Linked DNA regions of Homo sapiens: region 1 is linked to region 2. The links come from fine-mapping of genetic effects on gene expression. A gene starts in region 2. The other region holds a variant in brackets. All regions are shown on one strand. Distances are between the middles of the regions. Region 1 holds the start of TRK-CTT5-1 (tRNA-Lys (anticodon CTT) 5-1). Region 2 holds the start of IL32 (interleukin 32).

The links.
Region 1: its variant is fine-mapped to the expression of IL32 in whole blood (INTERVAL, PIP above 0.99).

Annotation. Positions count from the first base shown.
Region 1 is chr16:3,174,587-3,191,655 of GRCh38, reverse strand. It overlaps TRK-CTT5-1 (tRNA-Lys (anticodon CTT) 5-1), which reads left to right and starts at 11,030; the gene lies at 11,030-11,102. TRP-AGG2-7 (tRNA-Pro (anticodon AGG) 2-7) reads left to right here and starts at 8,950; the gene lies at 8,950-9,021. It overlaps TRP-TGG3-4 (tRNA-Pro (anticodon TGG) 3-4), which reads left to right and starts at 7,452; the gene lies at 7,452-7,523. OR1F1 (olfactory receptor family 1 subfamily F member 1) reads right to left here and starts at 3,452. Exons shown (of 4, transcript NM_001370640.6): 1 at 3,177-3,452; 2 at 1,858-1,907; 3 at 319-418. It also overlaps TRK-CTT2-5, TRP-TGG3-5, TRP-AGG2-8 and TRK-CTT4-1. RefSeq lists silencers at 1,894-2,053, 7,201-7,260, 8,641-8,710, 15,898-15,997 and enhancers at 8,261-8,520, 9,091-9,200, 15,738-15,787, 15,711-16,222. The variant A/GA (reference allele first, on the strand shown) is at 7,445.
Region 2 is chr16:3,061,073-3,075,628 of GRCh38, reverse strand. IL32 (interleukin 32) reads right to left here and starts at 9,989. Exons shown (of 7, transcript NM_001376923.1): 1 at 9,942-9,989; 2 at 9,803-9,845; 3 at 8,214-8,252; 4 at 8,016-8,075; 5 at 7,619-7,645; 6 at 7,390-7,449; 7 at 6,099-6,639. The coding sequence starts at 9,817. The coding sequence ends at 6,274. It also overlaps the pseudogene RNU1-125P and the pseudogene LOC107984896. RefSeq lists enhancers at 298-347, 468-557, 628-747, 7,328-7,847, 10,186-10,495 and a silencer at 928-1,111.

The sequences.
Region 1 (17,069 bases), 110 kb before region 2:
CAGAGCGCGATGTGGCACCTGGTAGTGTTCATTAAATGCTGGCTGTTTCCAGAACTCCAAGGTAGCAAGGAAGAAAACAAGTCGCCCAACGTGGGGCTCGAACCCACGACCCTGAGATTAAGAGTCCCATGCTCTACCGACTGAGCTAGCCGGGCTTCCCTGGGAACGTTTTATGTCTAGTAATTGGCGGGGTGGCATGAGAATAGTAGAAACTAAGTGACGTAATGAATCAGCCCCAGAAACCAGGGCACACTGGGGGTCCCCTACAACAGGTTCAGTTCCACCCCGACATCCCCGCTGGTGCAAGACTTTGCTCACCGCTCTGCGATCTCCCATAAATGGAGATGACCCGCCAGAGGCTCCTTCCGCAGGGCGCTGGCATAAATCTGTATTCTCTGCCGTCCGCTGAAATGTCCTCCTTTCAGAAAGAGAAAAAACATACCCACACTGCACGCACCTAAAAGAGTCAACGACAACCTCTTTTTGGAGGCCACTCGAATTACAGGAACAGGAGAGTTCTGCTGTGTATCGGGCAAATTAACCCATCTTTGGAGCTGCAGACAGAATGTCTGAAGCTCACTGGGAGCTCACAGAAGTCCTCGCAGGTGTCGCTCCGCACTGTAACCTACTGTGACGTGCATGTAGCTGTTCCGTTTCCATTACTGTGTGCTTTTATATCTAGAACTATTTGGTTGTTTTTTCAATCTAGAAGGTTCAAAGGAGAGCATTTTACATAGGTCCCGTTGTCAAAGATATTTTCTTTATTGCCTTTCCTAAGGATAATTGTATTACAGACTTCCCAATAGTCTGCATCCAAAATGTTTGCAATTTTGTTTCTGTTGCCTACTGTTGATGACTTGTTGTTCATGATACCTTGTTTTGCGGTCTTTTTTTTTTTTTTTTTTTAGATAGAGTCTTACCTTGTCACCCAGGCTGGAGTGCACTGGCGCCATTTCAGCTCACTGCAACCCCCATCTCCGGGGTTCAAGCGATTCTCCTGCCTCATCCTTCCTAGTACCTGGGATTACAGGCGCCCGCCACCATGACCGACTAATTTTTGTATTTTCAGTAGAGACAGGGTTTTACCATGTTGGCCAGGATGGTCTCAATCTCCTGACATCAGGTGATTAACCTGCCTCAGCCTCCCAAAGTGCTGGGATTGCAGGCGTGAGCCCTGCCTCCCTGCCTCCTTGTGCTGGGTCCATTTTCCTTGTAAATTTCTTTGATTCTTGATTCATAGCACGTTCTCAAACCCAGCGTCCCAAACAAAAATGAAGTCCCTGCCAATAGAATCTGTCCTCAGAGTAGACCAGAGGAGGCCCCAGTCCTGGTGGGCGCTGGGACTCAGGACGGGGTACCCGGGTTCCAGGGTTCAGTCCGTACTCCTTCCAAAACCAGGACAGGGGAGCAGAGGAGCCCCAAGAGGCTACACGCAGGTGAGGAGTGACGGGATGTGGGGAGGGAGAGGTCTCTGGACCCCAGACGCAAACACCCATAGCCTATCTCCACTGCTCGAGTGCCTGGCTCACTCTCTCATTAAGACTGCGACTGCTAGAACCGGGGATAGTGGGTGGGAGTCCCAGGCTGGACCTTTTAAGGCGTCTGACTGTGAAGATTCGGCTCTTATTGTATATAGGGACTTGTCTCTTCTTCGGTGCCTCGAGTTTGCACTGCCAGAAGTAACAAAAAACAAAACAAAACAAAACAAAAACCACCAAAAACCAAACAAACGACAAAAAAAATAGCTTGTCAAAAGGGCTCTGGCAACACTGGTGACAGGACTCTAGATGAATTTTAAGAAGAGGTAGTGGGATAGTAGGCGGCGTCAACATAGCTTGAGACCTTTGTACAAATTACCTTTGCAGGGCGTCCACGTCCTGCGCTGAGGTCTGTAAGTCGAGCCGAATCTAAAAAAGAGCAGGAAACGACTTTTACCCTGCACCAAAAGCCGGGCTCGTCCGGGATTTGAACCCGGGACCTCTCGCACCCTAAGCGAGAATCATACCCCTAGACCAACGAGCCACACGATTTACGCATTAAGGTTATCTTTGTGGGCGTCCTAGCATCCTGGGGGCGGCTGGGGCGGACCCAGCAGGACCCAGTGAGTAGAATCTTATTTCAGACCCGCCTGGAAGGGGCAATTTCAAGTGAGGATGGGTGTGGCGGAAGCCCAGAGCCCCGGCCCCTCCTCCGCGACGCACAAAATGGGGAGCAGCCCTGGCGCTACCACAATCCAGAAGGGCCCTGGGTCCTCGCCCGCCACCGCCACTCGGCCTTGAGTTGGGGATTCGGCGTCTCCGAGGCGCGCAGTGAGGAGCTCCAGCTTCCGCAGGACATGGGAACCTCCCAATAGCAGGCAGCGGCTGCGCTGAGGGTCTGCGAGCCTCGATCACTGCAAGCTCGCCTTGGAAACGCTGCAGTCCCTCAGCGTGGCACCAATGGGTGTTCAATAAAGGCCTGACGGAGTGCACGAGACACCAGCTACCAGGCACCCTACCTCGCCGCACCTCACGCTTCTCCGGCTCCGGTCCTCCCTTCTCCCCAGGGAAGCCAAAACCCAGAAAGCGAGTTTCCCACGTGGGCCTCGAACCCTAAAGGCTGACGCTGAGAGTCTCTTTTCTCCATCGACTGAACCAGCCCCGCAGCGCCTGCCTGGCCTCAAGTGCCCAGGATGGCTGAGCTCTCGGAGAAGACGGCTTAGGCCACCAACTACGCTGCGCACCAGGGGCGATTCTGCGATGCGCCCCCTTGCCCTTCACTGGGGGGAGCTGGCGGGACCTCCAGTCCCCAGGACGTGAGGAGGAGCAAGAATGAAGGCCGTGGGGCAGCAGGCGTCGGGCATCGGTTCCGGGGCACCCTTTACTGTCACTCTGCCCTTCCCTGTATCCAGATTTCACCTGACTCCCGAGAATCCAGCAGATCTGGGCTAAAAGGGGCTCCCTGTCCCCTCCAGATCAAAGCCGCGAATTCCCTCGCTCTCAGTGGGAAGGCCCCGGGGTCTGGGGGTGGGGACAAGGGCCGAGACCCCCACCCCGCCAGGGCCGACTGAAGTGCTGCCCGCGGATGCCCGGTCTTCCCCGCCTCCCTCCTCTCACTCACTCCCCTCCCTTCTCCCCCGCTTCCGGTATTCTCCCCTTCTCCGAATAAACTGGAATTTTAAGCGGAGGAGGGCTCACCTGGGACTGGAGCAGCCATACTCTGGAATCCTAGAAAAAATTTATGCCCCTGTAGCGACCAATGAGCCCGGCGCATTCTTCCTTATTCTAAATAACCTCCTCCTGCTGCACGGGGTCGTCTCCTTTAACCGCAGTTGCCGCAGTTGGCAGCGCTGGATCCCATTTCACCAAGGCGAGCGATTCAGGCCCGTCCGTCTGCGTCCCGGGACCCCGGGAGGTCTCCACTGAGGCCCTGCCAATAGCAGCCTCCCTCCGCCTTCCTAGTCTCCTGTCCTTGCTGAAAATGCGAAATGGGAAAAAAGAGAAGGAAAAGGGGGCTCGTCCGGGATTTGAACCCGGGACCTCTCGCACCCAAAGCGAGAATCATACCCCTAGACCAACGAGCCGCCGCTTCCTTTTTTCTTTTTTCTTTTTTTTTTTTTTTTTTTCCTTTTTCTGGTGGGGGACACGTCCTTCCGTCCCTGACGCAGAGCGAGACTCTCTCCATCGCCCCAATAGCTCAGTCCTTAGCGCGCGCACCTGCGAATCTTGACTTGTGGGTTCGCGGCCACCCTCAGATTTCCGAGGCAGGCTTTACTCCTGCTGGGTAAACCAACAAGGTTACCCGCTGAGGTTATGAGCTGGTGGTTTCAATGTCGTGCTGGTATGATATATAGGTGCATTTGCCTATTACTAAGGTAAAAGGATTTCCAGGCAGGATAGAGATGTCAGAAATCATAAAGGAAATACACAGATTTTATCCAAGGTTTTAAAACGGCAAATGATAATCCAAAGAAAATACAATCGAAGTTACAAACTAAGGGCTTATTACTGGGCTACATAGATTTCGAATCCTTTAAAAAATTACATAGGCATATTTTTAAAAGACATTTAAGAAAAGAAATGAAGATCTATGACAAAAAAGGCTTCGTCTTCCTCACCTGGGACTATGGAGCATAAACGCTGCTTGCCGCAGCCTCTCTGGCTGGCAAGTGTAGCCTCGGGCTGGCCCTAAGGGCCATAGGTGGAAAACAACTGAGCCTTGAAGTGGAGACTGGAGAAAAAGAGATTGTCCTAGAGCTTGCATGGGAAGAGTTTCGGGACCCAGAAACTGGAAACATTGGATTTCCGTGACAAAGTTTGCCAAGTAGCAGTACATGGTGCAATGGGTGTGTCTGGAGGCTGGCGTGAGGCGTAAAAGGCAGCTGGGCCCGCTGCTTCAGTGACTTCCTTGAGACTCAAAGGAAGCCAAGGAGAACCCTGTCTACTCACCTGCAGGCATCTCTCCCGGTGTCTTATGTATTGTCTGCTCTGGAAGTCACAGAAAAGTGAAGGAGGCTGGGCGCGGTACCTCCCGCCGGTATTCCCAGCACTTTGGGAGGCCAAGGCGGGTGATCACTTGAAGCCAGGAATGCGAAACCAGCCTGGCCAACATGCCAGACCGCTGTCTCTACTAAAAATACAAAAATCAGCCTGGTATGGTGGCGCGTGCCTGTAGTCCCAGCTACTCAGGAAGCTGAGGCACGAGAATCGCTTGAACCCGGGAGATGGAGTTTAGAGTGAGCCCAGACTGCGCCACTGCCCTTCAGCCTGACAGGGTGAGACCCTGTCTAAAAAAAAAGAAAGAAAGAAAAAAAAAAAGGAAACAGAATAGAGTCCAACTGCTCATTCTCGTCAGTTACTGAATAGGGACTAGACTCTGCTGGTTTCCATGAACTAACTCATGCTGTTTTCTTTCTTTCTTTTTTTGAGACGGAGTTTTGCTCTTTTTCCCCGGGCTGGAGTGCAATGGGGTGATCTTGGCTCACCGCAACCTCTGCCTCCTGGGTTCAAGAGATTCTCCTGCCTCAGCCTCCCAAGTAGTTGGGATTACAGGCGTGTGCCACCATGCCAGGCTAATTGTTGTATTTTTAGTAGAGACGGGGTTTCTCTGTTTTGGTCAGGCTGGTGTCAAACTCCTGACCTCAGGTGATCCGCCTGCCTCAGCCTCCCAAAGTGCTGGGATTACAGGCGTGAGCCATTGCACCCAGCCTCATGTTGTTTTCAGCAGATGCACGAGGAGTACACCATTATCTTCATGTCTACAGATGACACAACTGGAGCCCTGGAAAGGTTAAGGAATTAGTTCAAGTTCACACAGCCAGGAAGTGCCCTGGAAAGTCTGGCTAGAGAACCACGTAAACAGCTGTCTTTGCACACCAACAGGTAATTCACAGAAAAAGGAAAGCAAACACACACACACATACACACACACACACAGATGGCCAATAAACATGAAAAACCACTCACCTCACTAGCAAAGTTTCTTTCCCCACTTTCTGAACTGCCCGCTGCATCAATTCCATTCTAGGCCTAGTTTATCTCATAGCCTTACCACAGAAGCCAGTGGGGAATAGCTATATGTCTGAATTCTCCAATTTTGGCATATGCTTTGACTCAGTATATTGATAATTGAGATATACTACACATACCATAAAATTCACTAAAGTGTGTAATTGAGTGGTTTTTATATATTCATGTGATTGTGCAACAGTCACTACTATCTAGTTCTAGAATGTTTTCATCAGCCCAAAACAGATGCAGTACCCATTAGCAGTCCTCCCTGTTCCTCCCTCCTCCAATCTTCTGGCAACCACTAGTATGCTTTCTGTCTCCACGCATTTGCCTGTTCTCTACATTTGATATAAATGGAATTATACAATAGCAGTCTTTCATGTCTGGCTTCTCTCACTTAACATAATGTATTCAAGGTTCATCCTTGTTGCATATGTCAATAATTCATTCCTAATTATGACAGAATAATATTTAGTATTATTGAATAATACTGTATTAGTTTGCTAGGGTCGCCATAACAGTACCATAGGCTGAGTGGATGAAATAACAGAAATTTATTTTCTCACTATTCTGGAGGCTGGAGTCTGAGACTAAGTATGGGCAGGGTTGGTTGGTGCTGAGACCTCCTTCCTTGGCTTGGGGACAGCCATCTTCTCCCTGGGCCTTCATACCATCTTCCCTTTGTGTATGCCTCTATCCAAGATCCAAATTATTATTATTATTATAATTTTGAGACAGGGTTTGTTACCCAGGCTGGAGGACAGTGGCATGAACATGGCTCACTGCAAGCCTCCACCTCCAGGGCTCAAGAGATCCTCCTACTTCAGCCTCCTGAGTAGCTGGGACTATGGGTGATTGCCACCACACTCAACTAACTTTTTTTTTTTTTTTTTTTTTTTGAGACGGAGTTTTGCTCTGTCGCCTAGGCTGGAATGCAGTGGCATGATCTTGGCTCACTGCAACCTCCGCCTCTCAGGTTCAAGCAATTCTCCTGCCTCAGTCTCCTGAGTAGCTGGGATTACAGCTGTTTGCCACCAGGTCTGGCTGATTTTCATATTTTTGTAGAGATGGGGTTTCACCATATTGGCCAGGCTGCTCTGGAACTCCTGACCTCAGGTTATCTGCCCACCTCGGCCTCCCAAAGTGCTGGGATTACAGTAGTGAGCCGCCATGTCTTGTCGACTAATTTTTTTATTTTTATTTTTTTGTACGAACGAGGTCTCACTATGTTGCCCAGGCTGGTCTCAAACTCACACCTGTAATCCCAGCACTTTGGGAGGCCGAGGTGGGTAGATCACTTGAGGTCAGGAGTTCAAAACCAGCCTGGCCAACATGGTGAGACCCCCGTCTCTACTAAAAATACAAAAATCAGCTGGGCGTGGTGACTCAAGCCTGTAGTTCCAGCTACTCGGGAGGCTGAGGCAGGAGAATTGCTTGAACCCAGGAGGCGGAGGTTGCAGTGAGCCGAGATTGTGCCACTGCACTCCAGCCTGGGCAACAAGAGCGAAACTGTGTCTCAAAACAAAACAAAACAAAACAAAACTATGAAGCCCGGTAATAAGCCCTTGATTTGTCATTCAGATTGTATTTTCTTTGGATTGTCATTTGCCGTTTTAAAAACTTGGGTAAAATCTGTACATTTCCTTTGTGATTTCTGACATCACTATCCTGCCTGGAAATCCTTTTACCTTAGTGATAGGCAAATGCACTTATATTTCATATCAGGACGACATTGAAACCACCAGCTCATAACCTCAACGGATAACCTGGTTGGTTTATCCAGCAGCAGTAAAGCCTGCCTCGCAAATCTGAGGGTGGCCGCGAACCCAAAAGCCCAGATTCGCAGGTGCGCGCGCTAAGGACTGAGCTATTGGGGCGATGGAGAGAGTCTCGCTCTGCGTCAGGGGCGGAAGGACGTGTCAAAAAACAACAACAACAACAACAAAACAGAGGGG[A/GA]AGCGGCGGCTCGTTGGTCTAGGGGTATGATTCTCGCTTTGGGTGCGAGAGGTCCCGGGTTCAAATCCCGGACGAGCCCCCTTTTCCTTCTCTTTTTTCCCATTTCGCATTTTCAGCAAGGACAGGAGACTAGGAAGGCGGAGGGAGCCTGCTGCTGGCAGGGCGTCAGTGGAGACCTCCCGGGGTCCCGGGACGCAGACGGACGGGCCTGAATCGTTCGCCTTGCGGTCGGTCCTATCACCCTGAAATGGGATCCAGCATCCCATCACCCTGAAATGGGATCCAGCACTACCAACTGCGGTAGCCGTGGTTAAAGGAGACGACCCCGTGCAGCAGGAAGAAGTTATTTAGAATAAGGAAGAATGCGCCGGGCTTGTTTATTTACGGGCATAAATTTTTCGTAGGGTTCGACGGTATGGCGGCTCCAGTCTCAGGTGAGCCCTACCCTAGCTTAAAATTGCATGGTATTGCGGGGAGTAATGTATGTGGCGGGGTGTCAGAGGGAGGGGAATGAGGGAGAGACGAAGGAGGGGCGAAGGCCGGGGCTCAGCTGGCAGCACTTTAGTGGGCCCTGGCGGGGTGGGGGTCTCGGGCCCCGTCTCCACGCCCAGACCCCGAGGCCTTCCCACTGAGCCAGGAAATTCGAGGCTTGGATCCGGAGGGGATGGGGAGACGTTTTCAGTCCAGACCTGCCGAATTCTCGGGCTCCGGGTGAAATTTGGACACAGAGAAGGACAGAGTGACAGTAAAAGGTGCCCCGGAACCGACACCTGGACGCGGCCTCTGCTGCCCCAAGCGGCCTCTGCTTCCCCACGTCCTGGTGACCGGAGGTTCCGCCAGTTCCCCCAGTGAAAGGGAAGGGGGTACATCGCTGACTCCGGCGGGCGCCGCGGGTCTGGTGGAGCGAAGCGACGCTCAGTGTCAGCCTCTTGAATTGAGGTTCCACGTGGGAAGCTCACCTTCTGGGTTTTGGCTTCCCTGGGGGAGAAGAGAGGACCGGAGCGGGAGAAGCGTGGGGCGCGTCGAGGTAGGGGGCCTGGTGGCTGGTTCCTGGTGCACTGGCGAGGCCTCTACTGACCACCCATCTGCACCACGCCGCCGGGCTGCAGCGTTTCCAAGGCGGGCGTCCAGTGGTCGCGGTTCGCGGACCCTCCGCGCAGCCGCTGCCAGCTCTTGAGAGGTTCCCATGTCCCGCCGGAGCTGGAGCTCCTCACTACGCGACGCGGCGTGACGCGCGGATCCCCAGCCCAGGGCTGAGAGGCGGAGGCGGGCGAGGGCCCGGGGGGCCCCGGATTGTGGGGGCACAGGGGATGCTCCCCATTTTGTGCGGCGCAGGGAGAAGCGGGGGCTCAGGGCTCCCTCCGCGTCCACCCGCGCTTGAACTTGTCTCTTCCAGACTTCAGGAAATCGGAGTCTCCTCCTAGCTCTGCTCTGCTGGGTCCCCACCTCTGGCCACGAGGACTCCACGAAGGCCACAAAGACAAGCCGGAGGCTACGGGGCGTGTGGCTCGTTGGTCTAGGGGTATGATTCTCGCTTAGGGTGCGAGAGGTCCCGGGTTCAAATCCCGGACGAGCCCGGTTTTTGGTCCAAAATATCGGTTTCTACCCTTTCCTACTTTAGATGAAGATCAGAGATCCAGACAGCTCTGACAGGTCAGCGCAGCCCGAGTCCTTCGAAGTTAGTTTGTTTGTTTGTTTTGAGACAGAGTCTCTGTCGCCCCGGCTGGAGTGCAGTGGTGCTATCTCACCTCACTGCAACCTCCGCCTCCTGGGTTCAAGCAATTCTCCTGCCTCAGTCTCCCAGGTAGCTGGGACTACAGGCACGTGCCACCATGTCTGGCTAATTTTTGTACTTTTTTTTTAGTAGAGACAGGGTTTCGCCATGTTGGCCAGGCTGGTCTCCAACTCCTTACTTCAGGTGATCAGCCCGCCTCGGCCTCCCAAAGTGCTAGGATTACAGGCGTCAGCCACCGCGCTCAGACTTCGAAGTTAATTTGTACAAAGATCTAAAGCTGTCTGACACCACCCACTGCCACATTTAAAATTTATTTGGAGTTTTCTCACCACTGTCGTCAGAGCCCTATTCCCTAATATTTTTGTTTGATATTTTGCTATTTTTGTTTTCTGCTTTTATTATTATTTTTATTTATGAGCTACTTTTGTCAGTAGGAATTCATTCGAGGCACTGAAGAAGAGATAAGTCCTTCCTATATACAGTAAGAGCCGAGTCTTCACTGTCAGACACCTTAAAAGCTCTACACTGGGATTCCCACCCAGTGTCCCTGGCTCCGGCGGCTAGAGCCTTAAGGAGAGAAAGCCGGGCACTTGAGCAGAGGAGATGGGCTATGGGCGTTTGTATCTGGGGTCTAGAGTCCTCTCCCTCCCCACATCCCGACACTCCTCACCTGCGTGTAGCCTTCTGGGGCTCCTCTCCTCCCCTATCCTAGTTCTGGAAGGGGTACAGACTGAACCCAGGAACCCGGGTATCTGCGTCCTGAGTCCCAGCGCCCACCAGGACTGGGGCCTCCTCACATCTACTCTGAGGACAGAATCTATTGGCAGAGTCTTCCTTTTTGTTTGGGATGCTGGGTTTGAGAACATGCCGGGAACCAAGAGTCGTGACTAATCCAATTTTGAGCGCTTGAGGACCAAGTGGAAAGAAACTCAAGCAGATTTAAAGTGACCAATGTCTGGTTATGCCCTTGAGCCCCTGCAGAAGCAAACAATAATTTTGTGTGTGTGTGGACAAATACATTTGTATTCCAGATCTCACAGAATTTCCTACACAAAGAAATTTGCAAGGAAAATGGACATTGCACCCTAAAAATTAACAAGGAAAGAAGGTACCAGGAGCAACAACTCATTAACAGGAACAGAAACAATATTGCAAATATTTCAGATGCAAAGTGTATCCGACTTATAATACAACTGTCCCTACTGTGTCTAAAGAAATGAAAGGCAATAAAGAAAATATCTTTGACATCAGGACCTCCAACCTTCTTGATTGAAAAAAGAACCAAATAGTTCTAGATATAGAAGCACACGGTAATGGAAAGGGAACAACTAGATGCACGCCACAGTAGGTTACAGTGCGGAGCAGCACCTGCGAGGGCTTCTGTGAGTCCCAGTGAGCTTTGGGCTTTCTGTCTGCAGCTGCAAGGATGGCCCATACACAGCAGAACTCTCCTGTCCCTGTAACTCAAGTGGCCTCAAAAAAAAAAAAAAAAAAAAAAAAAGGGTTGCCAAGGTTGTCATTGACTCTTTAAGTGCGTGCAGTCGCAGTCTGAGAATGTTTTTTCTCTTTCTGAAAGAAGGCCTTTTCAGAGGAGGGCACGGACTGGGAGAACACAGATATATGCCGGCGCGGTGACGAAGGAGACTCTGGCAGGTCACCCCCATTTATGGGAGATTGCGGGGTGGTGAGGGAAATCCTGCACTAGCGGGGACGTCGGTGGCGAACTGAGTCTGTTGTGGGGGACCCCAAGCGCGCCCTGGTTTCCCGGGGTGATTCATTACCTCCCTTTGTTTCCACCACCCTTAGGCCACTCGGCCCATTTGTAGATATGGAAAAGATCCTATAAGGAAGCCCGGCTAGCTCAGTCGATAGAGCATGAGACTCTTAATCTCAGGGTCGTGGGTTCGAGCCGCACGTTGGGCGTGCCTTTTGCTGTACCATGAAGGTACATCTTTTTCTCCCAGCTTTCTGCCCCTGGCAATGCAAGACTTGGTGAAAGAAGAAACTCAAGCAGAAGATTTAAAGTGACCAATGTCTGGTTATGCCCTCCCCTGCTTATTCCAGAAAGCCATCCTGGCTCCTGCCCCATGGATGCGGTTCCTACCTGGAAGACCAGGAGAACAGTAATTCCTCGCTCCTTGATAGCAGAGGCCCTGGGGAAGACCCCCACTAGGGTTTTCCTTTTCTGGGATCCCAACAGGGCTGTCCTCATTAAAACAGAAGAAAGTCTGAGAACCTTAGCTTGTACAGGATTGGACTCTCTTGTACCCTAAGCAACAATCATAGCCTGGACAAGGAGCCACCTACAAAACCTTTCTCTGCTTATCTCCCATCGTCCTTATGCCTGGCTCCACCCTTGTCCAGCAACACTGCCCAGATGCTGATCCCCAGGGGGTCATGTCAGGTAGAGTTTGACTCAGGTCCCATCAAGTAGAGGGGGATAGAGATCCCAATGTTCACTAGTTTGACAGTCCCAGTGTCTGGCTTTCCTGCCTTCCTCTCTGATTAGAGGCCTCCAGCCCAGGGAGGTGGGTGCCGGATCCTCCCAGAAGTGCCCAGTGCAGCCGGAGGGAGCAGCTGTGGTCTCCTGAGTTACCCAACCTCCCTCCACCCGGACCCTCTGGGTGCATACAAGATTTCACTGGATCTCTGCTTGTACGGCCAGCGTGGTGCTGCTGGTACCTGCTTGCAGAGTTGTGAGGCTGGTGACGGTGACCCAGGGGGCAGAGATTAGGATGTTCAACATTAGCAGTAGACGTAGCTAATGCTTATTAGGCTCACCATGCCTAACACTCTTGTAAGCTCTTTACTTATCTAAACTCGTTTAATCTTCACTACTATACTCTTATTATTGCATTTTCAGACAAAATTGAGGAGCTGGGATGGAAACATGGAAACCCAGTCAACCTGCCACAGAATGTGCCCTCCCAACCCCAGCAGGTCAGGGAAGCGGACGGCAGGGAAGAGAAGGTCTGCTTGACTTGGTGTCGGCATTCCTGGGGCAGTGAGGTTTATTGACTGATTGATTTACTGATTGAGATGAGTCTCGCTCTGTCACGCAGGCTGGAGTGTGGTGATGGGATATCCGCTCACTGCAACCTCTGCCTCCCGGGTTCAAGGAATTCTCCTGCTCAGCCTCCCTTGAGTAGCTATGATTGCAGGAACGCGCCACCACGGCCGGCTAATTTTTGTATGTTTTTAGTAGACATGGGGTTTCACCATGTTGGCCAGGCTGGTCTCGAACTCCTGGCCTCAGGTGATCTGCCTGCCTCTGCCTCCTAAAGTGCTGGGATTACAGGCGAGAGCCACCGCGCCCGGCCGGTTTATCAGAATAGTTTTTTTTTTTTTTTTTTTTTTTTTGAGATGGAGTTTTGCTCTTGTTGCCCAGGCTGGAGTGCAATAGCACCTTCCTGGCTCACCACAACCTCCGCCTCCCGGGTTGAAGCGATTTTCCTGCCTTCACCTCCCAAGTAGCTGGGATTACAGGCATGCACCACCACGCCCGGCTAATTTTGTATTTTTAGTACAGATGCAGTTTCTCCGTGTTGGTCAGGTTGGTCGCAAACTCTCGACCTCCAGGTGATCTGCCTGCCTTGGTCTCCCAAAGCGCTGGGATTACAGGTGTGAGCCACCTCACTCAGCCTATTTAGGATAGTTTATAATGAAAAATACATTGGCACAACTCCTCGGGTGTGCTCCTTAATGCTGCTGCAAGGAACACCACTCAAAATCCAGACCTGGCCTTCTGAGATAGGTCAAGCTGTAAGGTCACTTGGAGCCCACTGAGGAAAGTGGCACTGGGCCGGGCACAGTGGCTCAAGGCTGTAATCCCAGCACTTTGGGAGGCCGAGGTGGGTGGATCGTCTGAGATCAGGAGTTCGAGACCAGCCTGGGCAACATGGTGAAACCCCGTCTCCACTAAAAATACAAAAATTAGGCAGGCATGGTGGCAGGCGCCTGTAATACCAGCTACTTGGGAGGCTGAGGCAGGAGAATCGCTTGAACCCAGGAGGCAGAGGTTGCAGTGAAGCAAGATCATGCCATTGCACTCCAGCCTGGGTGACAAGAACGAGACTGCGTTTCAAGAAAGGAAGGAAGGAAGGAAGGAAGGAAGGAAGGAAGGAAGGAAGGAAAAGAAAGAGGCACTGATCAGTAGGCCTGCTTTTCTATTTTGCTTTTTCTGAAATTTTGAGATAGAGTCTCACTTTGTCACCCAGGCTGGAGTGCAGTGATGCAGTCACAGCTTACTGTAGCCTCGACCTTCTGGGCTCGAGTAGTCCTTCCACTTCAGCCTCTCAGGTAGCTGAGACTACAGGCTGAGCCACAATTCTTGGCAATTTATTTTTTGTAGTAGCAGTAGCAATAGTAGAGATGGGGTCCCTCTTGGTTGCCCAGCCTGGTCTTGAACTCCTGGGCTCAAGTAATCCTCCCTTCTCAGACTACCCAAGTTCTGGGATTATAGGAATGTGCCGTCAAGCCTGATTCAGGCATGCTTTTCACATAAGGCGTAAGAGATCTCAGGTTCTAGTCCTGAATAAGCCCAAAGTTTTTTCCTTCTAAAATCACTAACATTCTAGGTTAGGGGCTTGGTCCCTTCCGTTCCTGTGGTCCTGAGGAGCAACTGTGGGGAGTAAAGGTGGGGAAGCCAGTGCCCTCCAGTTTCCCTGCAGGGCTTGCAAGGGATTGGGGATCGAGTCCTGGAGACTCTATAGGTAAAGAGGAAAAATCTTGGAGGACAGCGAGAGTCGGTGTGAAGGATCAAGAATTGCCGGTTGTAGGCCCGGCACGGTGGTTCACACCTGTAATCCCAACACTTCAGGAGACGGAGGTGGGCGAATCACTTGAGGTCAGGAGTTTGTTATATACAAAGTTTCGGTGCCGCAAAAGAAATAGCCCGAAAATATAAAATTTTGTTTTTAATTCTCAGCAAGGCAAGGTACTTCTATAGAAGGGTGCGCCCTTACAGATGGAGCAATGGTGAGAGCACACTTGGACAAGGGAGGGGAAGGGGTTCTTATCCCTTTCGCACGTGGCCCCTGCTGCTGTGTCATTCCCCTATTGGCTAGGGTTAGACCGCACAGGCTAAACTAATTGCCATTGGATAATTTAAAGAGAGTGACGGAGCGAATGGTTTGGCGGGAAAAATGGTTATTACAGAGCAGGTAATCGAAAGAGTCAGGGTGGAGTAGGTAATTGAAAAAGGTTGCTTTATGAGGAAGTTAAGTTTAAAAGTAGAAGGTAAAGAATTGAACATACTGACATATTGAATCTTTGAAAAGAAATTTGGAACTCATATCTAACAAGTTGGAGACCAGCCTGGCCAACATGGTGAAACCTCGTCTCTACTAAAAATACAAAAAGTAGCTCGGTGTGATGGCACGTGCCTGTTCCCAGCTACACGGGAGGCTGAGGCAGGAGAATCGCTTAACCCTGGGAGGCAGAGGCTGCAGTGAGCCGAGATCGCGCCACTGCACTCCAGCTTGGGCAACAGAGTGAGACTCCATTTAAAAAAAAAAAAAAGTGTACAATTTGGTAAGTTTTGGCAGTCCGTCACTCTCTGCTTTCTGTCACTGTATTATTTTGCATTTTCTAGAGTTTTACACACATGGGATCATCATTATATAACATTATTTTTTATGACATTATCCTCCATTTTGGATTTATGATAATTTCATTTAATCTATGCCCTATTTTGGGGCAAGTAGATTGTTTCCATTTGTTTTTTGTTGTGTTTTGTTTTGTTTTTTGAGACGGAGTCTCGCTCTGTTGCCCAGGCTGCTGTGCAGTGGCGCGCGATCTCGGCTCACTGCAACCTTCACCTTCCGGGTTCAAGCGATTTTTCTGCCTCAGCCTCTCCAGTAGCTGGGACTACAGGCGCGCACCATCACGCCCAGCTGATTTTTGTGGTTTTGGTACAGACGAAGTTTTACCATGCCAGGCTGGTCTCGAACTCCCGACCTCGTGATCCACCCACCTTGACTTCCCAAAGTACTGGGATTACAGGCGTGAGCCACCGCGCCCAGCCTGTTTCCTGGTTTTTAAGTATAATCTCAGAATAAATATTTTTTGATGCAAAATATCTATGTAAATCTATTACTACTTTTCTAGGACACGAGCCCTCAGTCAGGCTGGTGGGAATATAAAATAATCCAGCCACTGTGAATAATAGCCTCAAAATGTTAAACACAGAACTACCAAATGACCCCAAAATTCCATTCCTAAGTGGAATTCCACTCCTATGCTCAAGGAAATTTAAGACATATGTTCATACTAAACCATGTACACAATGTTCACTTTAATGAGCTGAGTTGTGACTGTCCACCATCCATATGTTGAAGTTCTAACTCTCAGTCCCTCAGAATGTGGCTGTATTTGGAGACTGGGTATTTAAAGAGGTAATTAAGACAAAATGAGGTTATTAGGATGGGCCTTAATCCAATATGACTGGAGTCCTTACAAGAAGAGGAAATTCAGGGCAGGCGCGGTGGCTCACGTCTTTAATCCCAGCACTTTGGGAGGCTGAGTCAGGTAGATCACCTGAGGTCAGGAGTAGTGAAACCCCACTCCAGGATGGTTTCCTGGGATGAGCAGGCATCTGCTTTCACCAAATCTTGCATCGCCAGGGGCAGATGGCTGAGAGAAGAAAATTGACCCAGTTGGAACAGAAACTCACAATGCTATCCTTGCGGGTGAGGCTCGCAGTAAAAAGGAATCGCCCAACGTGGGGCTCGAACCCACGACCCTGAGATTAAGAGTCTCATGCTCTACCGACTGAGCTAGCCGGGCGACACGCCAACGTTACCTTAGTGGATTTCTAGATTACAGCAGAGTCCAGGACCAGGAGTCTTCAGTGTCGGGACTACACTGTAGAACACAGTTGCTCCGCAGTAAGCGTTGCCCTCAGGCCTGCCCCAAAGGCGAGGCGCAGCAGGAGGCCCCCGAGGTAGCTGGATCTGGGTCTTTCTCTGCGTCAGAGGCCCACCCGCGGACGCCCCACAGGCCGGCACCTCCTGAGTGTCAGGGTGACTGGCCCTGGCACCCGCCCCGACTCAGGGCTGTGGAAGCGGGTCTGACCCGTGGATTCCTCGTTCACACGAAATACCTTTGCTGAGCCCCGACTTCGAGCCCAGCCAGATCCCATGGAGGCAGCAGACCCTGGGCATCCAGCCCCGTTGGAGGGTGTGGCACAGAGCCGCAGCTGCCAAACTGGAGCAAGAAATTGTTGTGACTCCTGCCCAAAGGATGGGGGTGGGGGTGGGGAAGAGGGAGGGACTGCAGGAACTGCGAGGCACCCCGGAAAGAAAACCGTGTCCCCACCAGGGGGAGGTGGGCTGGGGTGGGCTGGGTTGCAGGGGGCCGGGAGAAGGTGGGAGGCGGCCGGCAGTGACGGCGGGAAGCAGACAGGAAACCTCCGTGACCCAGCGGCCTCCTGCGCTGGGTTCCTTGCCTCGCGTCCCACCTGGGCAGGTGACGGTTTCCCGTTCCTTTCTAGGACCCTTAGCCTTTGCCGCTGCTGTTCGGCTGAAGAAGAATTCCCTAGCCAGGTTCGGTGGCTCACGCCTGTGATCCCAGTACTTTGGAAGGCCGAGGGGGTAGGATCGCTTGAGCCCAGGGGTTGGGGACCAGCCTGGGCAATATAGCGAGACACCCGTCTCTACAAAAAATAAAAATTTAAACATTAGACGGGCGTGGTGGCGCGCGCCTGGAGTCCCAGTTACTCGGGAAGCTGAGGCTGCAGTGAGCTATGATTGCACCATCGCACTCCAGCTTCGGCAACAGGGCAAGACCCTGTCTCAGAAAAAATAAAAATTAAAAAAAAAAAAAAGAATCCCCCCCTGAGCCCTCAGCACTTGCATCTCCCCAGGTTCGAGTCTCCTCCTTGGCAGGGCT
Region 2 (14,556 bases):
CTGCAGCACCACAGGGAGGCCCCAATTACCCCATGCGGATGAGTTTCATGGCCATCTCTAACTAAGGTCAGCACTGCTCAGGGCAGGTTCATAGGTAACGACCTGGTGAACTGAAAAGCAAATTTCTCTCGGTCCCTAAAACCACTAGCTGAGCATCTAAGCATGAAACATGAGTCCTAAGAGGGGTAGCAAACACGTTTTCATTCACTTCTCACCAAACCTGTCCCCTATGTCCATTTTACAGAGGAGGAAACTGAGGCACAGAGACTTCAAGGTAGATGGCCAGGTACCCTGGCTCTGCCAGCCTGCCGTTCAGCAGGGGCTTCAATGGTCTTGCTCAAATCACATGTGCGCTGATGAATGTCCTTGTTGACTGTAGGTTCTCTTGTTGCTCTGAGTCCTTTTTCTGAGAAACTGAAGTTTGGTGTTTTGATCACGGCCATATCATTCATCTCTCACCTTCTATCCTGCCTTGCATGTCTTTAACCACACTGAGCTTCCGGGCCCTGCACCCCTTCCTGCACCCTTGTCACACCATGCATCTGGGGGAAGTTACACAACCACAGCTGTGCAGACCCAGCCTCACGAGATTCTCAGAGGGCAGTCCACAGGGGCCCCAGCACCTCCTATCATCCTTGCCCCAGGCTTTGGCAGGCAGCTCCTGCACACTCCCCTCAGCCCCATGCCAGGCCCACAGCCCCTCAAGCTTTCATCCAGCCCCGGCCCCCAACTTTCTTTTCTGTCTCTTTTTTTTTTTTTTTTTGAGACGGTGTCTTCCTCTGTCACCCAGGCTGGAGTGCAATGGCGTGATCTCAGCTCACTGCAACCTCTGCCTCCCAGGTTCAAGTGATTCTCCTGCCTCAGCCTCCTGAGTATCTGGGATTACAGGCGCCCCACCAACACACCCAGCTAATTTTTGCATTTTTAGTAGGGACGGGATTTCACCATGTTGGCCAGGCTGGTCTCGAACTCCTGACCTCAGGTGACCCCCCCGCCTCAGCCTCCCAAAATGCTGGGATTACAGGTGTGAGCCACCGCGCCCGGCCCTCAGCCCTAACTTTCAAATGACAATTGTGTTTCCTGTTTCATCAGGACAGGACATCGATGTCATCTGTAACTTCCAGTGCACTGGGACACACAGCTGTATCTCCCCATGCTCGCCTCCTGCCCCTCCCGGTGTGAGGACTTAGCCTGGATCACCTCCTCCAGGACAAGAACGACCTACCGGCATCTATCCATCCAATCTCCCCACCCATCCATCACTGCCTCTGTGCATGCATCCTTCCAACCATTCATACACGCCTCTGTGCATGCATCTGTCTGTCTGTCCCTGCCTCTGTGCCTGCATCTGTCCATCCATCCCTGCCTCTGTGCCAGTATCTGTCCATCTATCCCTGCCTCTGTGTATGCATCTGTCTGTCCATCCATCCCTGCCTCTGTGCCTGCATCTGTCCCTCCGTCCATCCCTGCCTCTGTGCATGCATCCTTCTGTACATCCCTGCCTCTGTGCATTCATCTGTCTGTCCATCCCTGCCTCTGTGCATGCATCTATCCATCCATTCATCCTTGCCTCTGCCCATGCATCCGTCCATACATCCCTGCCTCTGTGCATGCATCTGTCCATCCATCCATCCCTGCCCCTGTGCATCCATCTATCCATTCATCCCTGCCTCTGTGTAGGCACCTGTCCATCCATCCCTACCTGTTTGCACTCATCTGTCTCTCCATTCCTGCCTCTGTGCATGCATCTGTCCATCCATCCATCCCTGCCTCTGTGCATGCATCTGTCCATCTATCCATCCCTCTCTCTGTGCATGCCTCTGTCCATCTATCCATCCCTGCCTCTGTGCATGCATCTGTCATGCTATCCAACCCTGCCTCTGTGCATGCATCTGTCAGTCTATCCATCCTCCATCCCTTTCTTTGTATCAGCTTATCCTGTGCTGAGTGCTCACAACTCCTTCATCCTAAGACGCTCATTGGACCTATTCCCTCCCCCGACTCCACGCCGCTCTCTGCCCTCCCTTCCTGGTCAAGTTCTCCAGCCAGTGGTCTCAACTCAATCTTCTCTTCCTCCGCTCCTCTCATGCCTAAGCCCACTGCCGCCTAAATTCTTCCCCAACCCACTGGGCCTACCGGCACTAAAAAGGTCACTTTGTCCCTGGATGACCAAACACAGGCCAATGTAACTTACTGGGCTTGTTTTGCCCCAGCCACAGCTGACCACTTCCTCCTTCACTCTTGTTGTTGATCACCTTTGGGCTTAGTCTTTCTCCATCTCTGTTGAGTCCTTCTCCCCTGCCACCTACTCCTTCATGCTGGGGTTCTCTGTAGCTCTGTACCTGACAGTCACGTTCCACCCTTTCCTCCCAGAAGCTCGCCAACCCCCGTGGACTGCTGGCTCTCAAGGCGGCCACTAGCCCAGCTCCGACAGCAGCTGACAATGCACAGTATGCGGCCCAGGGCAGGCCCTGTGCTGAGAGGCATGGGTGAATGGCTCATTTCATCGGCAAGCCCCCGCCACCAGCAGGCGCCGTTCTCCTCGCATTTCTCAGGGGAGGAACCTGAGACAATGAGGTTAAGGAAGTTGTTCATTACAAGTGGAAGAACCCTGACTTACTTGAATTCAACTTTGAAGCCCACATTCTCTTTTTCTGTGTGTGTGACAGGGTCTCACTTTGTCACCCAGGCCGCAGTGCAGTGGTGTGAACACAGCTCATTGCAGTCTCAACCTCCCTGACTCAAGCAATCCTCCTGCCTTAGCCTCCTGAGTAGCTGGGACTACAAGCATGTGCCACCACGCCCATCCGAAGCCCATATGTGAATGTTGAGGCACACAGCCTCCCCAGCCTCTGCCTTACCAAGCCCTCCACAGGGCCTAGGCACCCTCCCTGGCTGCCCCCTTCCCCCGTCACTCAGGCTCCCCAGCAGCCAATGTAGTTAATATGGGGCTGCAAAGAGCTGGGCCTGGCCTCAGGCGGGACGGCCTCCCCGGCATTGCCATCCCTGCTGCAGAGCTCCCATGCGATCAGCCTCCTCTCCAGCTGAGACCACATCCTCACTCAGCTTCTAGGCTGTTCCTGCTCCCCATTCCCCTCAGCACATGGCCCCTGAGAAACTGCTTGCACAAGAATTTCCCTCTGGAGCCCCACCTCTGGGGAACCTGACCTCAGACAGAGGAGACCAAGCTCTAGGGCAGGATCCTCCACCTCCCTTGCCCCACCCGTGTGGCCAGCCCAGAGCGCTGCAGACTCCCGCCCAGACCTGTACTCATGCCTGCCTTCTGCCAGCCTGCTCCTCCTCCTCCCACTCTCACACCTGCATTAACAGCACCAGGACACCATCCTCCAAGGGCCCCAGCCTCATCTCCCCTGTCACCAGGATCCAGCCAGATCTCAATCCTTGCCCATCCTAACTGAACCTCCCTCAGATCCGTCCACTGCCCCCTTCCCCAGGACCACACTCCACCATCTCTTGCCTGGACCCTGCGAGAACTTCCTGCCTCCCTGCCTCTATCCTACCCCCTGCCCCCTGCTGAAGCTGATGATAGTTCCGGAATGCAAAATGCCTTAATGATTCCCCCATTGATCAAAGTCTTCCACATGCTTTCAAGGCCCTTGGTGATCCGGGACCTGCCGCCTTCTGCAGTCTCCCTACTGATGCCATAGTTTTGGCTTCTGGCCTCAGATGTCCCGGGTTATTTCTCTGCTCAGTGTCTCCTCGTACCCCTGACTCAGCTGGCTCACTGCTTTCCCATTGGATCTCAACCCTGTGTACCTGGGGAGAGCAGAACCCTGTATGTCTTGTCTTGTGCTAGTAGGCGCTCAGCGTGTTTGTGCATGCATCTGTCCATCCATCCCTGCCTCTGTGCACGCATCTGTCCATCCATCCATAGCAGTGACCTATGATTGCACCACTGCACTGCAGCCTCAGCAACATAGCAAGAACCTGTCCCTTGTTTTTTTTGTTTGTTTGTTTGAGATGGAGTCTTGGTCCTTCACCAGGCTGGAGTACAGTGGCGCAATCTTGGCCCACTGTAACCTTGGACTCCCTGGTTCAAGTGGTTCTCCTGCCTCAACCTCCCAAGTAGCTGGGATTACAGGCGTGTGCCACCATGCCTAGCTAATTTTTGCATTTTTAGTCCAGATAGTGTTTCACCATGTTGGCCGGGATGGTCTCGACATCCTGACTTCGTGATCTGCCGGCCTCGGCCTCCCAAAGTGCTGGGATTACAGACATGAGCCACTGCACTCCGCCAGCAGTAGAAATTTCTAAGCACCAAAGCATTCAGCAAGTCACCTGTCTTTTCTTGAAAGCATACGGTTACATGCACTCACAAAGAGATGCTTTGGAATTAGAACTTATACTTAAAAGGGAAGCAGAGCATAAAAGATGGAAAATTTGCAGCCTGACCATGTGGTAGAAAAGAAAACCCATTTCCTGGGGATTAATTCAAGCTAGGCCTAGGGCCCCGCTGCTCTGTGCAGCCTCGGGACATGGCACCCTGTGCCCCAGCCACTCCAGCTCCAGCTGTGGCTAAAGAAGACCAAGGTACAGCTCAGGCCGTCGCTCCAGAAGGTGCAAGTCCCAAGCCTTGGCAGCTTCCACATGGTGTTGGGCCTGCAGGTCTGCAGAAGACAAGAGCTGGGCTTTGGGGGCCTCCGCCTAGATTTCAGGGGATGGATGGAAATGCCTGGATGACCACGCACAGGTTGTCATGGAGAACGGCTACTGGGGCAATGCAGAGAGGAAATGTGGGGTTGGAGCCCCCACACAGACTCTCTACTGGGGCACTGCCTAGTGGAGCTGTGAGAAGACCACTCTCCTCCAGACCCCAGAATGGTAGATCCACCAAGCGCTTGCTCTGTGTGCCTGGAAAAGCCGCAGGCACTCAGCACCAGCCCATGAAAGCAGCTGCGGGGGCTGCACCCTGCAGAGCCACAGGGGCGGAGCTGCCCCAGGCCCTGGGAACCCACCCCTTGCATCAGTGAGCCCTGGACATGAGACATGGAGCCAAAGAGATCGCTTGGGAGCTTTAAGATTTAATGACTGCCCTGGTGGATTTGGGTCTTGCCTGAGGCCTGTAGCCCCCTTTTTTGGCCAATTTCTCCAATTTGGAAAGGGAACATTTACCCAATGCCTGTACCCACAATGTGTCTTGGAAGTAACTAACTTGCTTTTGAATTTACAGGCTTATAGGCAGAAGAGACTTGCCTTGTCTCAGGTGAGACTTTGGATTGGCCTTTTGGGTTGATGTTGGAATGAGTTTAGACTTTGGGGGACTGTTGGGAAGGCATGATTGAGTTTTGAAATGTGAGAAGGACATGAGGTTTGGGAGGGTCCAGGGGCAGAATGAGATGATTTTCTCTGTGTCCTTACCCCAATCATCTCAAACTGTAATCCCCACATGTCGAGGGAGGGGCCGGGCTGGAGATGATTGCATCATGGGGGCGGTTTCCCCCATGCGCTTCTGGTGTAAGTGAGTGAGTTCTCACAAGATCTGGTGGGTTAAAAGTGTTTGGCAGCCGGGTGTGGTGGCTCATGCCTGTAATCCCAGCACTTTGGGAGGCCGAGGTGGGCGGATCACCTGAGGTCAGGAGTTCAAGACCAGCCTGGCCAACATGGTGAAGCCGCATCTGTACTAAAAATACAAAATTAGCCTGGTATGGTGGCGCATGCCTGTAACCCCAGCTACTCAGCAGGCTGAGGCAGGAGAATCACTTGAACCAGAGAGACAGAGGTTGCAGTGAGCCGAGATCACCCCATTGCACTCCAGCCTGGGCGACAAGAGCGAAACTCCATCTCAAATAAAAAAAACACACAAACACGCGGACAAAAGTGTTTGGTAGTTCCCCCCACCCTGCTTCTCCTGCTGCCATGTAGGACGTGCCTTGCTTCTCTTCCGCCTTCCCCCATGATTGTAAGCTTCCTCAGGCTTCCCCAGCCATGTGGAACTGTGAGTCAGTTAAACTTCTTTTCTTTATACATCACCCAGTCTCAGGCATTCTTTATAGCTGTGTGAAAACGGACTAATACGGCAACAGATCAGCCTTGCCCTGGGAAACCCACCTCCGCGATCATGGTATCTCCCCTGCCAGGGAAGTATAAGCAGGTTTTATTAAGATGCCAGGGCGACAGCACCAGGTCAGAGCTGCGGCAGGAACGCCAGGCAGGGGGACTGAGTGTGCGGGAGAGGGCGGGGCACAGGACAGCTGAGGGAGGGGTCAGGGTGGGTGCGCGGTGACGGGGAGGGCAAAGGTGGTGTCAGTATCTTCATTTTGAGGATTGGGGTTCAGAGCACTTCTGGGGTGTCAGCTCCTCCTTGTCCCCCCGTGGGGCTCCGTAGGACTGGAAAGAGGACATGAAGAGCTCTGACAGAGAGCAGCAGAAACTCTGGAACTGTTTCCAGAGGGCCTGCACTGCATGGACCAGGGCCACCACCTTCTCCTTCACCCAGGCCAGAACCCCGTGCCACCAGGTCTGCAGCCGCTGCAGCATGGCCTGGAACCATCTCATGACCTTGTCACAAAAGCTCTCCCCAGGCTCCTCGGTTGCGGGATCCTCAACATCCGGGACAGGGGATCTGTTGCCTCGGCACCGTAATCCATCTCTTTCTTTTTCAAGTAGAGGAGTGAGCTCCTGTGGAATGGGAGCACCATTCAGGGTCTGTAGGTGGGGGTGTCAGCCCCAGGCCCTGGCCACACCCAGGCCTCTCAGCCTTTTCCTGACCCTGGGAGACGGAGGCCCACAGGTGTTGGTTTCCCAACCACAGCCCCGTGGGCAAGAGGGACTTTTCCCAGAGTCCCCCTCCTCTGCATTCACCTCCATGGCAGTGACAGGATGGGTGTGTCTGCTTGGTCACCAGGTCAGGGCCCTCATCGTGCCTTGAGGGCTGTGCCACTGTGTGAGGAGTGAGGCCATGGGCAGGTCCCAGCTAGGCTGTCACTCCCAGCCCTCCACCCCAAGCTCAGGGGCTGGGCACACCCTGCCCACACCACATCAAGACAGGGCAGGGGTTGGCTGGGCCCGGTGGCTCATGCCTGTAATCTCAGCACTTTGGGAGGCCAAGGCAGACGGAACACAAGGTTAGGAGTTCAAGACCAGCCTGGCAAACATGGTGAAACCTGGTCTCTACTAAAAACACACACAAAAAAAATCAGCCTGGAGTGGTGGCGGGTGCCTGTAGTCCCAACTACTTGTCAGGCTGAGGCAGGAGAATCACTTAAACCCGAGATTTGGAGGTTGCAGTGAGCCAAGATCATGCCACTGCACTCCAGCCTGGGCGACAGAGCGAGACTCTGTCTCAAATAAACAAAAAGAAAGAAAGAAAGAAAAGACAGGGCAGAGGTGAAGGAAGGCAAGGTGCCCAGATGGGTGTGTCATACTCACTGGGTGCTGCTCCTCATAATAAGCCGCCACTGTCTCCAGGTAGCCCTCTTTGAAGTCGTCCTGGGGAGAGGAGGGCACAGGGGGTTCATGCTGCTCCTGCCTGCCCCCTTCCCACTGTGGCCCCCACTGGTCCAGGTGATTCCCAAGGGGACCCGGGGCCCAGACCCAGTGTCCTGTGGAGCCTAAGACCCAGGGACTAAGCTTGGTGGAGGGGGAGGCCACGGCTCACCTCCAGCTCTGCCAGGCTCGACATCACCTGTTAGGAACAAAGCACTCGGTTCCAGGCCCAAGCCTCCTCTGCACCCCACATCAGTCAGTCCTCAAGCCCAGTGAGTCCTCAGCTCCCACACACCCCGAACTGGGCCCAGCCAGGGGCCCGGGCCACGTCTGGCACCCCTGTTGTTTCCTCAAGGAGCCCTGGGGCTTGGATGCCTCCCTCAGTCTCCCCGGGCGTCCAGATCCCCCACCCGCCCACTCACTGCCACCCAGGTGCAAGCATTTGCCCACGGTAAGGGGTGAGGGAGCCTGTGGGTCCCTCTTCATCCTTCTCACCCTGAGCCCCACACAGGGTGGAGTGCCTGGGGGCGGGGACATGTGACCTGGTGCCTGAGGGGAAATCCACCCACCTGTCCACGTCCTGATTCTGCATTTTGCATTTTATCATAAAATCTTTCTATGGCCTGGTGCTGTGAAGAGAGGCAGAGTTGGCACCAAAGGGCCGGATCCTTGTCCCTCCAGGGTCCCAGGTGTCCCACAGTGTCCTCAGTGTCACACGCTGAGACCCAGGCCCCCAACCCCTGAGCAGAAGTAGGGAGGAGCATTACCATTCGGGCCTTCAGCTTCTTCATGTCATCAGAGAGGACCTGCGGAAATAACGGTGACACTCAGTCTCCATGTGTCACCTTAACCTTTCCTCCAGGATAATTTATACACACACACACACACACACACACACACACACACACACAGAGACACATGGCAGAGGTACAGGATAAGAGGAGACAGCAGTCCCAGGAGCCCCTCACAGCCTGGAAAGACCGGCCAGGGCTGTCCTCGAAACGACTCAGAAAGCGCTTCTCTCAGGAGCCGGCTCAGCTGGGCAGGCCCAAGAGCAGGGCCAGCATGGGCCTAGGTGACCCCTCCTCACAAGAGCAGGGCCTGCGTGGGCCTAGGTGACCCCTCCTCACAAGAGCAGGGCCTGCGTGGGCCTAGGTGACCCCTCCTCACAAGAGCAGGGCCTGCGTGGGCCTAGGTGACCCCTCCTCACAAGAGCAGGGCCTGCGTGGGCCTAGGTGACCCCTCCTCACAAGAGCAGGGCCTGCGTGGGCCGGGGTGTCCTCCCTGCACACACACACCCCCCCATGTACACACACGGGAGGATGGACACTGTCCTGGAGCAGGCTGGCTCAGCTGGGTTTCCCACAACCACTATGGTCCCAGGTGAGAGTTGGCCAAGGAAAAAATGTTTAGGGACATGACAATTGAGAAGGTAACAGCAGCCATTCCTCTCTGATGAGCTGATTAATATTTGGGGTGCCAGGTAGGTCCACCCTACAACCTGCCACTCTTCCCGACTGCCAACATGCAGACCCACAGGTCCCGGGCCATTCCTGCCTGCAGACACGTGGCTGCATCCACAGAGGCCAGAGGCACCCCACAGAATCCCCGCTGAGCCCCCACGTCAAGGGCCTAGTCTCGGGGGTGACATGCCTGGTTTCCCCCACTATAGAGTGGTGACAGTCACCCACAGAGTGCGCAGGGCCTGGGGACATATTCTGGGCAGGGCAGCTGTCTGCACACTTTCAGGCAGCGATGGTCCCATCCCGCTAGCCTGATTTCCCAGGAACCAGGGTGAAAGCAGCACCGTGCCGACATGCGGGAGCCATGTGTCCTCCGGGTCACTGTCCTGAACCTGAGCCAGGCCACATCATGGAAACCCCTATTGTCACAGGCCGAAGAGCTCCCTGGAGGGTGTGGTGGGCCTAGCATTTGCGGTGGGGCAGTGGTAGAGGATGGGAGGTCGGAGGGAACCCAGGAAAGGAGGAAGAGACACCAGGACCCACACAGGCCTTGCTCTTGGGCCCACCCAGCTGAGCCGGCCTCTGAGAGAAGCATTCTCCGAGTCGTTTCCAGCAGAGCCCTGCCCCACCCCTGCCCCGGGCTTTCCGGGCTGTGAAGGGCTCCTGGGACAGGTGCTCCCTCTCATCCACACCCCTGCCGTTCTCCAGCGCCCCCGACACATATGACCTCCAGCGCCTCCACTGACACTCTCACCCCATCACTATCCTCCTGCCGCTGGGTGCCCCTGACTGAGCCCTGACACACAGGCACCTCGGGAAATACTGAGGGCACCCGCACCCTTACGGTCTGTTTTCAGACATGCCCACAAAAGCACACGCAGCCTCTCACTCACCTTCGGGAAGCACATGGCGGCCAAAAGTTCAAGGAGCCAAGGCCTGCTGGCGAGGAACAGGTGTGAGGAAAAGAAAGTGTCTCAGAGAAGCACCCTCCTCCCCAGAGGGTCCTCACCTTCGGGGACCCCAACTCCCCACCTGAGATGACCCAGCTCCACTGAGACAGTCACCTTCTGCACGCAGTCTTCCTGGCACAAATACTCAGCTGGTTTTATGGGGAAAGTGGGGGGTAGTGGGCGGAGCCTCTCTCAGGGCAGGAGGCCTTGCTGAGTGCGTGAAAAACAGACAGAGACAGAGACAGAGACAGAGACAGACAGAGATGGAGACTTACCCGAGAGAGACAGAGGTCTGGGGTCCCTGGGAGGAATGAGGGTCCGTCCCTGGCTGGGCCCCTGCTCCCTCTGAGCTGGGGTGGGAGTCTCTGAGCCCAGGAATGGGCTGCTTTCCCCACCCCACCAGCCTGAGAGTGGGGAGGGGCAGAGGGAAAGTCCAGACTCGGGACAGCTGGCTGGGGAAACTCCCTGAGTACAGGAAGGTGACGTCAGCCAAGTGGGATCCAAGGACAAAGGAATTTGGACCCTGTCCTTGCATGAGGTGTGCCCCGGCTCCAGAGGCCAGAGAAACTTCTGGATCAGAAGGAGGCAGGAACTGCCGGACCTAAGAGGGGCGCCGTGAGGGCAGGGGCCTGTGCACGTTGGAGGGGTGGCTAGTGGTGATGTAGATCTACCTGTGGGACAAGATAGGACCCTCTGCAGGGTGGAAGGCATCCTGCCGGCTGTCTGAGCTTGGCTGACCAGGTCCTTCTGACCCTTCTGGGCCAAGGCAAGGCCATCTGGGGCCGAAGGTCACTGGTCTCAGCAATCTTGGGGCTCCCCTACGGGCTCTTCTAGCTCCACGGGTTCTGACCCTCCAGCCTGGCTGGGCCTCCCACCTCCTCCTCACGGCCCCCAGCCCCCTTCCCCCAGCTGAGCACAACCACGCCCTTGCCTTTGGGATGGTTTCCTGGGGCCAAACTAAGGAAGTACCACGACAAGGGGCCCTAAGTCGAAGACGTCTCTTCCCTCACGATCTGCAGGCTGGAGGTCCAAGGTCAATGTGGGCAGCGTGGGGTCCTTCTGAGGGCCCGGAGCTGGGATTCTGTTCAGGTTTCTCCTGCCCTTGTAGATGGCCATCTTCATCTTCATCACGTTCTGCCTGGGTGTGACTGTCCCCCTTTCCCCTTTCCAAAGGACACCAGTCATATTGAAATAGGGTCCACCCTAGGCCGGGCGCAGTGGGTCACGCCTGTAATCCCAACACTTTGGGAGGCCGAGGCGGGCAGATCACCTAAGGTCAGGAGTTCTAGACCAGCCTGGCCAACATGGTGAAACCTTGTCTCTACTAAAAATACAAAAATTAGCCTTGCGTGGTGGCCGGCACCTGTATTCCCAGCTACTCGGGAGGCTGAGGCAGGAGAATCACTTGAACCCGGGAGGCGAATGTTGCAGTGAGCTGAGATGGTGCCACTGCACTCCAGTCTGGGGGACAACAATGAAAATTCCCCTCGGAAAAAAAAAAAAAAGAAGTAGGATCCACCCCAGTGACCTCATTGTACCTTAAGTACCTCCATAAAGACCCTGTTTCCAAATAAGGGCATATTCTGAGGTCCTGGGGCTTAGGAATTCAGCATGGATGCAATGTATCCCATTATATTCTCAAAGGGGACTCGGAGAGACAGAACCTATAAAACACGCTCCATGGAGAAATCTTCCCTTGGGTGAAGTAGACAACGGTTGTCACCTGCCTGCCACTTAGGAGTCCATTCCACTGTGCGCAACCGCCTTTCCACATACAGGATGTCCAGATCTTTCCCTGAGTATCCTCTGAATTGTAGTGGGAGACAGAAGGAAGCCACTCCTGCACCAGCTAAAAGTCATGCTTTAGGCTTCAGCTCCAACCCTAGCCCCTCATGACTCTCAAAGGCCACCATCTGAAGACATCTTGGGATCCACCCAGACTGTATGTACCCTGTTTTTATAGCTTTATGGTGATGCAATTTACAGGCAATGCAATTCACTCATTGAGCTGTACAATTCAAAGCACAGAACTGTGCAGCTATCACCACAACCCATTTTAGAACATTTTTATCACCTCTAAGAGAAATTCTGCCCTTCTGAGACATCACTGCCAGTCCTCATTTCCCTGGATAACCACTCATCTACTTTTTCTTTTTCTTTTTTTTTCTTAGAGTCTCGCTCTGTTGTCTAGGCTGAAGGGCAGTGGCACGATCTCGGCTCACTGCAACCTCTGCCTCCTGGGTTCAAGCAATTCTCCTGACTCAGCCTCCCGAGTAGCTGGGATTACAGGCACGTGCCACCACACCCAGCTAATTTTTGTATTTTTAGTAGAGACGGGGTTTCACCATGTTGATGAAGGAGTCTCGAACTCCTGACCTCAAGTGATCTGCCCGCCTTGGCCTCCCAAAGTGCTGGGATTACAGGCATGAGCCACTGTGTCTGGCCTCATCTACTTTCTCTCTCAATGGATGCCTCTCTCCCAGACATTTCCTATAAGTAGAATTATACACTAGGTGATCTTCTGTGTCTAGCTTCTTTCACTGAACATGCTATTCTTGAGGTTCATCCGTGTTGTAACACGCATTATTCCTTCATTCCTTTTTCTGGCTGAATAATATTCTACTGTGTGGATAGACCACATTTGGTTTCTCCATTCACCCCTCGAAGGACATTTGGGTTCTTTCCACTTTTTGGCTAATTCCGAATAATGCTGCTATGAACATTCACGTACAAGTTTCTGTGCAGACGTATGTTTTCACTTCATATGTATGAAGCAGAAGAATAGCTGGGTTACATGGTAAATGTGTTTTTATCCTTTTGAGGAACAGCCAGACTATTTTTCAAAATGTCTGTCATTTTACATTCCCAGCAGCAGTGTGCGAGGGTTCCCGTGTCTCTACAACCTCAGCAATACTTGTTATTCTCTGTGTCTTTTCAATTCCAGCCATCCCAATGGGCTGAAATGGTATCACGTGACAATTTTTTTTTTTTTTTTTTTTGAGGTGGAGTCTTGTTCTGCCACTCAGCCTGGCCTAATTTCTGTATTTTTAGGAGAGATGGGATTTCACCATGTTGGCCAAGGAGTCTCGAACTCCTGACCTCAAGTGATCTGCCCGCCTTGGCCTCCCAAAATGCTGAGATTACTGGCATGAGCCACTGCGTCTGGGCTTATCTACTTTCTCTCTCAATGGATGCATCTCTCCCAGAGATTTCTTATAAGTAGAATTATACACTACGTGATCTTCTGTGTCTAGCTTCTTTCACGGAACATGCTGTTCTTGAGGTTCATCTGTGTTGTAACACGGATCAGTCCTTCATTCCTTCTTCTGGCTGAATGATATTCTACTGTGTGGATAGACCACATTTGGTTTCTCCATTCACCCCTCAAAGGAAGTTGGGGTTCTTTCCCCTTTTTTGCTATTCTGAATAACGCTGCTGTGAACATTCACGCAAAAGTTTCTGTGCAGACTTATGTTTTCACTTCTCTTGGATACGTATGAAGGAGAAGAATAGCTGGGTTACATGGCAAATGTGTTTTTATCCTTCTGAGGAACAGCCAGACTATGTTTCAAATTGTCTGTCATTTTACATTCCCAGCAGCAGTGCCCGGGGGTTCCTGTTTCTCCACATCCCCAGATACATTTGTTATGCTCTGTGTCTTTTTAATTCTAGCCATCTTAGTGCGCTGAAATGGTACCATGTGACAATTTTTGTGTTTCTTTTTTTTTTTTATTTGATGCAATCTCGCTTGGTCTCCCAGGCTGGTGTGCAGAGGCACGATCTCGGCTCACTGCAACCTCCAACTTCTGGGTTCAAGCGATTTTCCTGCCTCAGCCTCTCAAGTAGCTGGGATTACAGGCATGCGCCACCACGCCTGGCTAATTTTTGTATTTTTAGTAGAGACAGGGTTTCACCATGTTGGCCAGTTGGTCTAAAACTCTCAAACTCAAGTGACATCTGCCTCTCAAACGTCTGCATCAGCCTCCCGAAATGCGGGATTACAGGCATAAGCAACCGTGCCCAGCCAATTTTATTTTTATTTTTATTTTTTTGAGACACACCTGTTGCCCAGGGTGGAGTGCAGTGGCGTGATCATGGCTCATTGTTGCCAAGACTTCCCGGCTTCAGGTGATTCTCTCCTCTTCGCCTTCCAAGTAGCTGGGAATACAGACACGGGTTGCCACCATGCCCGGCTAATTTTTTGATTATTTTGTAGAGACAAGGTCTCACTATGTTGCCCAGGCTGGTCTTGAAACCCTGCGATCAAGCCATCCTCCCACTTTGGCCTCCCAAACTATTCGGATTATAGGCGTGAGCCACTGTGCCCAGCCTCTTTCCAACTTTCTGGATGATGTCCTTTGAAGCACAAAAGTTTTACATTTTGATTATGAGACCATGCCATTTTTAAACGATACCACTTAAAAAATAAAAATAATCACTTTGACATGACATTTTTGTGTAGCAGTCATAAAATTTTAAAGGCTCTGGAAGTCTACATGGAGCCATGAGGCAGTCTCAATTCCACAGTGGCCGTCCGTCCTCCGGGTGCCCCATAACCAACTTTTCGATTCCTCTCTACTTCGTCCTCCCACTCTTCTTTCTTCTTATTATTATTATTTTTATTTTTATTTTTGAGACGGAGTCTCGCTCTTTTGGCCAGGCTGGAGTGCAATCGTGAGATCTTGGCTCACTGCAAC